3 linked regions of the Homo sapiens genome follow. The protein of the gene in region 3 purifies or fractionates together with the protein of the main gene of each other region. This does not show direct contact. Each region holds a gene or a part of one and is shown on either strand. Other genes may lie near its edges.

Region 1 (3,651 bases), on a different chromosome or scaffold from region 3:
ATTCTCTGCCTCAGCCTCCTGAGTAGCTGGGACTACAGGCACCCACCATCGCGCCCAGCCTATGTCATGTTTCAAAAGGATCTCTTCAGTAGAAGAAGATCAATAAAATGACCAGCGTGTTCTTCTTATACCTTTAAGGTTATGTTTTTAAATACTTTAATCTGGCTGGGTGCAGTGGCTCACACCTATAATCCCAGCACTATGGGAGGGTGGGGCGGGCGGATTGCTTGAGGTCAGGAGTTTGAGACCAGCCTGGCCAACGTGGAGAAACCCCGTCTCTACTAAAAATACAAAAAATTAGCCGGATGTGATGGCACACCCCTGTAATCCTAGCTACTCAGGAGGCTGAGACAGGAGAATCGCTTGAACCCAGGCGGCAGAGGTTGCAGTGAGCCAAGATTGCACCACTGCACTCCAGCCTGGGTCCATCTCAAAAAAAAAATAAAAATGCAAGTATGAAAAATGAAGAGTTATCCTAGCAGTTGTAAGATTAGTGGGAAGTATAACATTTATAACAACAAAAAGGATAAACTGAGAAATAAGTTAGAATGGCCGCAGAGGGCCTGGGTTCTAGATGGGGGTGGGGTAGCTGCTCTGTTGAGGGGCGTGCATGTAGGGTCCAGCCCCACAGGGTCAGTGGGTTTTCTCCCTGTGTGCGGAGACGAGAGAGTGTAGAAATAAAGACACAAGACAAAGAGATAAAAGACAGCTGGGCCGGGGGGACCACTACCACCAAGACGTGGAGACAGGTAGTGGCCCCGAATGTCAGGCTGTGCTGTTATTTATTGGATACAAAGCAAAAGGGGCAGGGTAAAGAGTGTGAGTCATCTCCAATGATAAGTAAGGTCACGTGGGTCACGTGCCCACTGGACAGGGGGCCCTCCCCTGCCTGGCAGCTGAGGTAGAGAGAGAGGGAGAGAGAGAGACAGCTTATGCCGTTATTTCTGCATATCAGAGACTTTTAGTACTTTCACTAATTTTGCTACTGTTATCTAAAAGGCAGAGCCACGTGTACAGGATGGAACATGAAAGCAGACTAGGAGTGTGACCACTGAAGCACAGCATCACAGGTTGATGGTTAGGCCTCCGGATAACTGTGCGCGGGCCTGACTGACGTCAGGCCCTCCACAAGAGGTGGAGGAGTAGAGTCTTCTCTAAACTCTGCTAAGTAGTGGGTGTTTTTCCTTGACACTGATGCTACCGCTAGACCATGGTCTGCTTGGCAATGGGCGTCTTCCCAGATGCTGGCGTTACCGCTAGACCCAGGAGCCCTCTGGTGGCCCTGTCTGGGCATAACAGAAGGCTCGCACTTGTCTTCTGGTCACTTCTCACTGTGTCCCCTCAGCTCCTATCTCTGTATGGCCTGGTTTTTCCTAGGTTATGATTGTAGAGTGAGGATTATTATAATATTGGAATAAAAAGTAATTGCTGCAAACTAATGATTAATGATATTCATATATAATCATATCTAAGATCTATATCTGGTATAACTATTCTTATTTTATATACTTTATTATACTGGAACAGTTCGCGTCCTCAGTCTCTTGCCTCGGCACCTGGGTGGCTTGCCGCCCACACGTGCAAGCAGATGTGGGCAGGCGGAGGAAATTATGGATTTAAGGTGGTTATAGTTCAACAGAATGTTCTTCCTTTTTGAAGAAATTTTTTTTTGTTTTGGAGACAGGGTCTCACTCTGTCACCCAGGCTGGAGTGCAGTGGCATGATCTCGGCTTATTACGACCTCCACCTCCTGGGTTCAAGTGATTCTCCTGCCTCATCCTCCCAAGTAGCTGAGATTACAGGTGTGTGCCACCATGCCTGGCTCATTTTTTTGTATTTTTAGTAGAGACGGGGGTTTCAACATGTTGGCCAGCCTGGTCTTGAACTCCTTACCTCAAATGATCTGCCCGCCTCAGCCTCCCAAAGTGCTGGGATTACAGGTGTGAACCACCACGCCCGGCCTTGAAGAAAATTTCTATGTTTATCCAAAAAAATAAAATAAACTGGAGAGTAGCCAGGAAAGTTCTGTTGAGGAAGTCTGTGGGTGGCAAGCCACTCAGGCACCGAGGCAAGAGACAGAGGACACGGGCTGTTCCAGTATAATAAAATATAAAACAAGAATAGTTACACCAGATATAGATCTTAGATATGATTATATATGAATATCATTAATCATTAGTTTGTAGCAATTACTTTTTATTCCAATATTATGATAATCCTCGCTCTATAATCATAGCCTAGGAAAAACCAGGCCATACAGAGATAGGAGCTGAGGGGACATAGTGAGGTGTGACCAGAAGGCAAGAGTGCAAGCCTTCTGTTATGCCCAGACAGGGCCACCAGAGGGCTCCTTGGTCTAGCGGTGAAGCCAGTGTCTGGGAAGACGGGAAGACGCCCGTTACCAGGCGGATCGTGGTCCAGCGGTAGCAAAAGGTGTCAAGGAACAACACCCACTACTTAGCAGACCGGGAACCGGGGGGCGGGGGGGCGGGGGTGGGGGTTGGTGTCTCCCTTTCCCCGGGGGAGTTTAGAGAAGACTCTGCTCCTCCACCTCTTGTGGAGGGCCTGACTGATGTCAGGCCTGCCCGCAGTTATCCGGAGGCCTAACCATCTCCCTGTGATGCTGTGCTTCAGTGGTCACACTCCTAGTCTGCCTTCATGTTCCATCCTGTATACCTGGCTCTGCCTTCTAGACAGCAGTAGTAAATTAGTGAAAGTACTAATAGTCCCTGATATGCAGAAATAATGGCGTAAGCTGTCTTTGTGTCTCCTCTCCCTCTCTGCCTTGGTTGCCAGGCAGGGAAGGGCCCCCGTCCAGTGGACACGTGACCCACGTGACCTTACCTATCATTGGAGGTGACTCACATTCTTTACCCTGCCCCTTCTGCCTTGTATCCAATAAATAACAGCGCAGCCCGACATTCAGGGCCACTACCGGTCTCCGCGCATTGGTGGTAGTGGTCCCCCAGGCCCAGCTGCCTTTTCTCTTGTCTCTTTGTCTTGTGTCTTTATTTCTACACTCTCGTCGCCGCACACAGGGGGAGACCCACTGACCCTGTGGGGCTGGTCCCTACAGAAGTCTGATGAGGAGGTACTTGCTGGGATGTGTTTTAAACGTGTTGAGGTCACAGTCACTGAAGAGTGTGCTTTAGACCAGAGGTGGTCATGCTGGTCACTAGAGTGGGGCCTTGCGGCAGTGAGACCACCACGGATCGGAGGCCTGGCCGCACCCTGTGTGGTGAGGGGCTGGGGAGGTGGTGCTCTCTGGTTGTCAGCGGAGGGAGTAGTGATCGGTGCCACCTTTCTGAATGGCAGTTTTAAGTATGCTGCTTGTGGATTTTAAATGTAATTTTTGTACTTTTGTTTTCTTCTCAGTCCAGTCAACCTGCAACCAAAACGAGACTTTTTAGCACGCTTGATCCTGAGCTCATGTTAAACCCAGAAAACTTACCAAGGGCCAGTACCCTGGCTATGACAAAAGAATATTCCTTCCTGCGCACCAGTGTCCCTCGGGGGCCTAAGGTGGGCAGCCTGGGGCTTCCGGCACATCCTAGGGAGAAAAAAACTTCCAAATCAAGCAAAATCCGGTCTCTGGCCGATTACAGAACTGAAGATTCAAATGCGGGGAATTCTGGGGGAAATGTCCCGGCT
Region 2 (3,751 bases), on a different chromosome or scaffold from region 3:
CACATATACAGTTTGTAAGTGGTAGGACCATGATTTATTTATTTAATTAATTTATTTTTTGAGGCAGAGTCTCGCTCTGTCACCCAGGCTGGAGTGCAGTGGTGCGATCTTGACTCACTGCAACTCTGCCTCCTGAGTTCAAGCGATTCTCCTGCCTCAGCCTCCCGAGTAGCTGGGATTACAGGCATGCGCCACCACATCTAGCTAATTTTTGTATTTTTAGTAGTTTCACCACGTTGGCCAGGATGGTGTCGAACCCCTGACCTCGGGTGATCTGCCTGCCTCGGCCTCCCAAAGAGCTTGGTTTACAGGCATGAACCACTGCGCCTGGCCTAGAACCATGATTAAATCCATGTATGTGTAAATCCATAAACCATAATCCCAATTTCTTTATTAAGGTACCCCAGTACATATTACACACTCAGTTATGGAACATCTTATTTATTTTTAAGACACAGCCTCACTCTGTCACCCAGGCTGGAGTGCAGTGGTGTGATCACGTCTCACTGCAGCCTCGACCTCCTGGGCTCAGGAGATCCTCCCACTTCAGTGACCCCAGCAGCTGGGCCTACAGGTGCTTGCCACCACACGAGGCTATTTAAAAAAAATTTTTTTTTTTTGGACAAAGTCTCACTCTTGTCCCCCAGGCTGGAGTGCAGTGGCACGATCTCGGCTCACTGCAACCTCCACCTCCCGGGTTCAAGCGATTCTCCTTCCTCAGCCTCCTGAGTAGCTGGGATTACAGGCGGCTGCTGCCACGCCCGGCTAATTTTTGCATTTTTAGTAGAGATGGGGTTTCACCATGTTGGCCAGGCTGGACTTGAACTCCTGACCTCAGGTGATCCGCCCGCCTCGGCCTCCCAAAGTACAGGGATTACAGGTGTGAGCCACCGCACCTGGTCAAAATTTTTTTGTAGAGGTCTTGGAATCTTGGGCTCAAGTGATCCTCCCACCTTGGCCTCCCAAATTGCTGGGATTACAGGTGTGAGCCACTGGGCCTGGCCAGACATCTTATTCTTATTAGCTTTGTATTATTCTGTCCTTTGAATTTTGAATGTCCTTTCCTCTTGTCTATCAATTTTTCACACTGCTTTTCAGTTTACAATGCTCTTTTGTGTATATTACTCTATATAACTCTTCCCCAAGTCCCCTAAAGTTGCTATTAGTACTCATGTTTTTTCAAATGAAGAAGTTGGTGAGTGCTCCGAGACATTGTATAATAAAGGCTAAAGTTAGAGATATCAGGTCATTTGTTTAAAGTACTGGTGGCCAGTCTGGGCAACATGGGGAAACCTCGTCTCTACAAAAAACAAAAACAAAAACAAACAAAGAAACAAAAAATTACCCGGGCGTGCTAGCGCACGTCTGTAATCCCAGCTACTTGGGAGGCTATGGCAGGAAAATCCCTTGAACCCGGGAGGCGGAGGTTGCAGTGAGATCGAGCCACTGCACTCCAGCCTGGGCAACAGAGCAAAACTCTGTCTCAAATAGTTAAATAAAGTAGTGGTTGACCTGAAATAAGGACAAGGTAAGAAATTTTAAAAAGAAAATAAGAAAGTAGTGGTGGAGCTAGGACTTAAATTCTGGTGTGCTAACTCCAAAGCCCACCCTTTCTTCACCATGTTTCAGGGCTCCTCCCCTAGTGCCCAGCCTCTCCTGAATCAGAATACACGGTTCGGTCTTTGCACTCCCCCTTCAGGGCTTGCACCTAAGGCGCTTATTTAATTATGGGCACATGCATACTCGCTGCTTACATGTGCACCTCACCCTCTAATACGAGCCTCCTGAAGGGAGGGACATAAGTCGGGTGGTTTGGGATTCCTACGAACCCCAGCATGGGGCCTGTACACAACTGATGTGAATGAAATGTAAGGAAAGCTACAAGTCCTTAGCCCTGCATCTCGCCTCCTGGACGCTGTATCGACAGGCCAAGATCCAGATCATCGCTATATCCCTTACAGCCTTCTGCACACAGTAGGAGGTCAACATCATTAAACTTCAGTTCCCCCACTTTTCTTGGAACATAAAGCATAAGGGGGAGGGACTGGCACGCAATTCCTCACCTGAGGGCTCAGCAGGGTCCTCAGGTGCTTCAAGTGCATGACGCACACCTGTCTTTCAGATGCTCCTAGACAGCGACAACTCCCGTGGTTACCTGGACAACCCGCCACGCAGCCGCAGCGACAGGCACTGACGCTTATGCGACCGGAGCGCAACACGCGTCGCAAGGTCACACGTAACTTTGCGGCGAAGCAAACAGAACGTGCGCAAGCGCGGTGAGATCTAGGGCGGGCCCTTGAGAGGGCTTCATGAATGTTCTCCTTGACCAATCCCGTCGCCGCATGCAAACTCAAGACCAAGCCCCGCCCACAAGCCTTCAGCCAGCCCCAGGTCCTACGTCATAGCGGTCCGTCTCGCTCTTCGATGTACCTGACTTTCTGAGTGCACTCTCTTAATCCTCACAACTCTGGAGGGAAGCAGGGCGGTTTCCATGATAGGCCTTCTGCAGTTGACGGAATTGTACCCAAATAGGTTACATGATTTGCACGGGATCGCAAGGCTAATAACGATAGCTAACGATGAATACTCAGTATGTGTCTGCCAGGTACTGTGTAAAGTATTGTACGTGCATTTATATCATTTAATCCCAAAACCACCTTTTGAAGGGGATAGCGTTATTATTAGTCTCATTTTACATAACAGGAGACTCAGGGCACTTGCTCAAACTAACACAGCCAGCGAAGGACTTGGAACTGGAGTTCAACCCAGAGTTAGTAGCTTTAAACAGCTTTTATGTTCCTTCTCAACTCCTAGCTCGCTCTCTCCATGCCACGATACTATAACCTGTCACATTCCCATCCCAATAAATGACATTTATTCTCAGAATCTGGAAGATGAGTGTTTTGGAACTAGCTGCCAAAGAAACGTAAGGTACCCTACTTCCTAATTGGGTAATGGTGGGTTAAAGACTGCTGTTTACATTGGAATGTTTTTATGGTTCAGTTTGTTGTTGTTGTTGTTTTGAGACAGAGTTTCACTCTTGTTGCCCAGGCTGGACTGCAATGGCGCGATCTTGGCTCACTGCAACCTCTGCCTCCCGGGTTCAAGAGATTCTCCTGCCTCAGCCTCCCAAGTAGCTGGGATTACAGGCATGTGCCACCACGCCCGACCAATTTTGTATTTTTAGTAGAGACAGGGTTTCTCCATGTTGGTCAGGCTGGTCTCAAACTCCCGACCTCAGGTGATTTGCCCGCCTTGGCCTCCCAAAATGCTGGGATTACAGGCGTGAGCCACCGTTCTCGGCCTGTGGTTCAGTTTTGAGGGCAGACCTGACTTGGCTCACCCGATAGGTTGTCTTGTGATACCTGGGGTTAGAGATTGGTTAAGTAGAAAAGAGACTGACTTGTTGATCTTTGGAGTCCCGTTCAGAATTTTTGGCCTATCTTCTAACATACCAGAGAGATTGAAATGCAGAAAGGAGTTATTCATAAGCCTGCTCTGAAATGATCCAAAGTTGGGAAGATCTGTAACTCTCCAGGAAGTGTAACATATGCTCTCCAGACAGACTGTGGGTCCAGAAGCCTTCCCCCACAGTGGTTTGCAAGTGTCAACAGGTGTTTGTCTCATGGCCACCAACCACCCCTTAGAAAATAGGAAAGAGCAGAGGACAGCCCCTATTTTCACAGGAAACAAGTAGGCCTCAGAGCTCAAATGAGAATTATTTTGACAGGGGAGTCCCAACCCCTCAGTT
Region 3 (3,651 bases):
TGCAGTGAGCTGTGATCGTGCCACCGCATTCCAGCTTGGGTGACAGAACTAGACCCTGTCTTTAAAAAATTTTAAAAAATCCCCACAGAGTCTGAATTCTATCCCATCAGTGTGCCTCTCCCATGAATTACTGTGTCCTTTCCTCATGATGGCATCTGGCGCCATATGGTTAAAGCCTGCTTGCTTGTCTGTTTTCCTCAGTGGACTCGGAGCTTTGTGATTCACACTCACATTGCATCCCCAGGACCTAACATAAAGGGTCTGCTTAATATGTTCTAAGTGGGGTTAATACTTTGTAGAAACAAGCAAAAAAAAAAAATTTGTTAAAGCTGAAATTCATGTATCTGAAGAAACTGTATCTTCAGTGTTACCAAGAAGCCTCTAGTGAAGCTGCCCCAGTCCCTCACCAGTGATGGATGGGCACAGCTGAGCACAGTGTATTTTTTCCCAGAGTTTGTCCCTTTTGGCTCAGTCCTGAGCTCTTTATCTTTCACAGGCTCCCCTGTGAGGAATTATGTTCTGAGAGAAACCGTTCATGAGATGGATTCTACTTTGTTTCTCACTCAGGCCATGGAGAGTAAGTTGCTTGTTGGAGGAAAAAATATAGTAGATCATACGAATGAACAGCAGAAAATCCTGGAGCAGAAACGACAGGAAATTGCAGAGCAGGTAACTTTTCATTCTTTTTCAGGGAGAATGGGTGAGGTAAGGTGTGTTTATGCTGCAGAGCAAACGTCTCATATTAGACTCTCTTCAAAGAGAATGAGAGCAAGGTGTGTCTGCCTCATCCTAGCTGGAGACTCTGATCCTAGCTTGGGGAACCCAGCATAGACACAGTCTCTAGGGCAAGCTGATGAATTTTGTCATGTTGCTCAGAAACGTCGAGAAAGAGAAATCCAGCAACAGATGGAAAGTCGAGATGAGGAGACCTTGGAACTTAAAGAGACATACAGCTCATTGCAGCAAGAGGTGGACATCAAGACCAAAAAACTCAAAAAGGTATGAAAGGAATGAGGCCAGATGGAGTTGCCTTGAGACTTGGGGAAAGGGAGAACTCTACCCTTTGGACAGACACCCTCCTCACCTGCCTCTCCCCTCATTCCAGCTCTTCTCCAAGCTTCAGGCAGTGAAGGCTGAGATCCATGACCTCCAAGAAGAACACATCAAGGAGCGCCAAGAGCTAGAGCAGACTCAGAATGAGCTCACCAGGGAGCTGAAACTCAAGTAAGTGCCAGGCCTTCCATAGTGCCCCCAAGCCACTTGCTGAGTCATTGATCTCGTTTGTTTAGTTAGAAACAGCCCTGGCTGGGCTTGGTGGCCTACGCCTGTAATCCCAGTGTTTTGGGAAGCGGAGGCGGGCAGATCACCTGATGTCAGGAGTTCGAGACCAGCCTGACCAACATGGTGAAACCCCGTCTCTACTAAGAAATACAAAAATTAGCTGGGCGTGGTGGTGCATGCCTGTAGTCCTAGCTACTTGGGAGGCTGAGATAGGAGAATCGCTTGAACCCGGGAAGTGGAGATTGCGGTGAGTTGATATCGTGCCACTGCACTCCAGCCTGGGCGACGGAGTGAGAAAAAAACACAAAAAAAGAAATAGCCCTGAGGACAGGTCCTTCTCCAGCTCATCTCCTGCCACCCCATGTTCTGTTCATTCCTGAAAAAGTCACTTTCCATCTCTGGATCCCATCTGTTAACTGAATGACTTCATCAGGTGATCTCCAAGTTCCCTTCTAACCCTACCTTCTCGAAGCTTTTAAAGATTCTGGTCTTACATCTGTCTGATGATAAGAGGGAATATTTTATTAACTTGACTTTTTATTGTGACAATTTTCTGAATGGTATAATAAATACCCAAGTACCCATCACCCAGATTCAAGGATTAACAAGCTTTTGCCATCTATCTTTCACAAAAATATTTTAAAGCAAATCTTAACCTCATGTTATCTCACTCCTACATACTTATATATATATATATATGATCACAGTGGTTTTTTTTTTTTTTGAGACAGAGTTTTGCTCTATCACCCAGGCTGGAGTGCAGTGGCACAATCACAGTTCACAGCAGCCTGTAACTTGTGGGCTCAAACAGTCCTCCCACCTTAGCCTCCCGGGTAGCTGGAACTACAGGTGTGTGCCACTATGCCCAGCTAATTTTTAAAAAAAATTTTATAGAGATAGAGTCTCTCTATGTTACCTAAGCTGATCTCAAACTCCTAGGCTCAAGCAATCCTCCTGTTTCAGCCTCCCAAAGTGCTGGGATTATAGGTGTGAGCCACCACACCCAGCCCACAATACTGTTTTTAAAAAAGCTTAATTGAGACATACTTCACATACCATACAATTCACATATTTAAAGTGTACAAATCAGTCCGGGCATGGTGGCTCATGCCTGTAATCCCAGCATTTGGGAGGCCGAGGCAGGTGGATCACCTGAGGCCAGGAGTTCAAGACCAGCCTGGCCAACATGGTGAAACCCCGTCTCTACTAAAAATCCAAAAATTAGCTGGGTGTGATGGCGTGTACCTGTAATCCCAGTTACTCAGGAGGCTGAGGCAGGAGAATCTCTTGAACCTGGGAGGCGGAGGTTGCAGTGAGCTGAGATCACACCACTTTACTCAAGCCTGGGTGACACAGCGAGATTCTTGTCTCAAAAAAAAAAAAATTAAAAAATGATAAAGTATACAAATCAGTGTTTTTTTAAAAGCATATATATGCATAGGGCTATAAAACCACCACTACAATCTAATTTTAGAACATTTTTATTACTCTCCTCTAAAAGAAACTCTACCAGTTAGTAGTCACTCCTCATTACCCCCTTTCCCAACCCGAAGTAATCACTAATCTGCTTCCTGTCTCTATGGCTTTGCCTATTCTGGCCATCTCATATAAATGGAATCACACACTGTGTGGCCTTTTTGGCCTGGTGTCTTTTGCTTAGCATGACGCTTTCAAGGATCGTCCATGCCGTAGCATGGATCAACAGATATCTGGTAGTCCCAACATCAATTGTTCTTTATTATGACTGAATAATATTGCACTGTATGAATAGGACACATATTTATTTATTTTTCAGTTTATATACATTCCGATTATTTCTAGTCTTTGGCTATTATGGATAATACTTCTATAAGCATTCATGTATAAGGTTTTGTATGGATGTGTGTTTTCATTTCTCTGGGATACATTCATAGGAGTGGAATTGCTGGGTCATATGGTAACTCAGTGTTTAACTTTTTGAGAGAATGCCAAACTGTTTGCCACAGTGGCTGCACTATTTTACATTTCTACCACCAATTTCTCCACATCTTCTTTTTTTTTTTTTTCTTTGAGACAGTCTCGTTCTGCCACCCAGGCTGGTGTGCAGAGGTGCAGTCTCAGCACACTGCAACCTCCACCTCCTGGGCTCAAGCGATCCTCCCACCTCAACCTCTGGAATAGCTGGGACTATAGCGGCATGCCACCCTACTTGGCTAATTTTTGTGTTTTTTGTAGAGATGGGGTTTCACCATGTTGCCTAGGCTGGTCTCAAACTCCTGGGCTCAAGCAGTCTGCCCGACTTAGCCTCCCAAAGTGCTAGGATTACAAGTGTGAGCCACCATGCCCGGCCTCTCCACATCCTTGTCGACACTTGTTATTTCCTGTCTCTTT

The links.
Region 1: the proteins of KIF3B (region 3) and GOLGA3 fractionate together in Homo sapiens (co-fractionation; one large-scale study listed by BioGRID). This does not show direct contact.
Region 2: the proteins of KIF3B (region 3) and IFT172 fractionate together in Homo sapiens (co-fractionation; one large-scale study listed by BioGRID). This does not show direct contact.

What each region holds. Positions count from the first base shown.
Region 1 is NC_000012.12:132,808,274-132,811,924, reverse strand, and holds part of GOLGA3 (golgin subfamily A member 3), read left to right. Parts: intron 1-42; exon of another isoform or gene 43-138; intron 139-3,375; coding exon 3,376-3,651. UniProt on the Homo sapiens protein: Golgi auto-antigen; probably involved in maintaining Golgi structure.
Region 2 is NC_000002.12:27,487,552-27,491,302, forward strand, and holds the start of IFT172 (intraflagellar transport protein 172 homolog), read right to left. Parts: upstream 2,193-3,751; 5' UTR 2,103-2,192; coding exon 2,064-2,102; intron 1-2,063. UniProt on the Homo sapiens protein: Required for the maintenance and formation of cilia. Plays an indirect role in hedgehog (Hh) signaling, cilia being required for all activity of the hedgehog pathway.
Region 3 is NC_000020.11:32,315,651-32,319,301, forward strand, and holds part of KIF3B (kinesin-like protein KIF3B), read left to right. Parts: intron 1-567; coding exon 568-669; intron 670-876; coding exon 877-999; intron 1,000-1,105; coding exon 1,106-1,224; intron 1,225-3,651. UniProt on the Homo sapiens protein: Microtubule-based molecular motor that transport intracellular cargos, such as vesicles, organelles and protein complexes. Uses ATP hydrolysis to generate force to bind and move along the microtubule. Plays a role in cilia formation.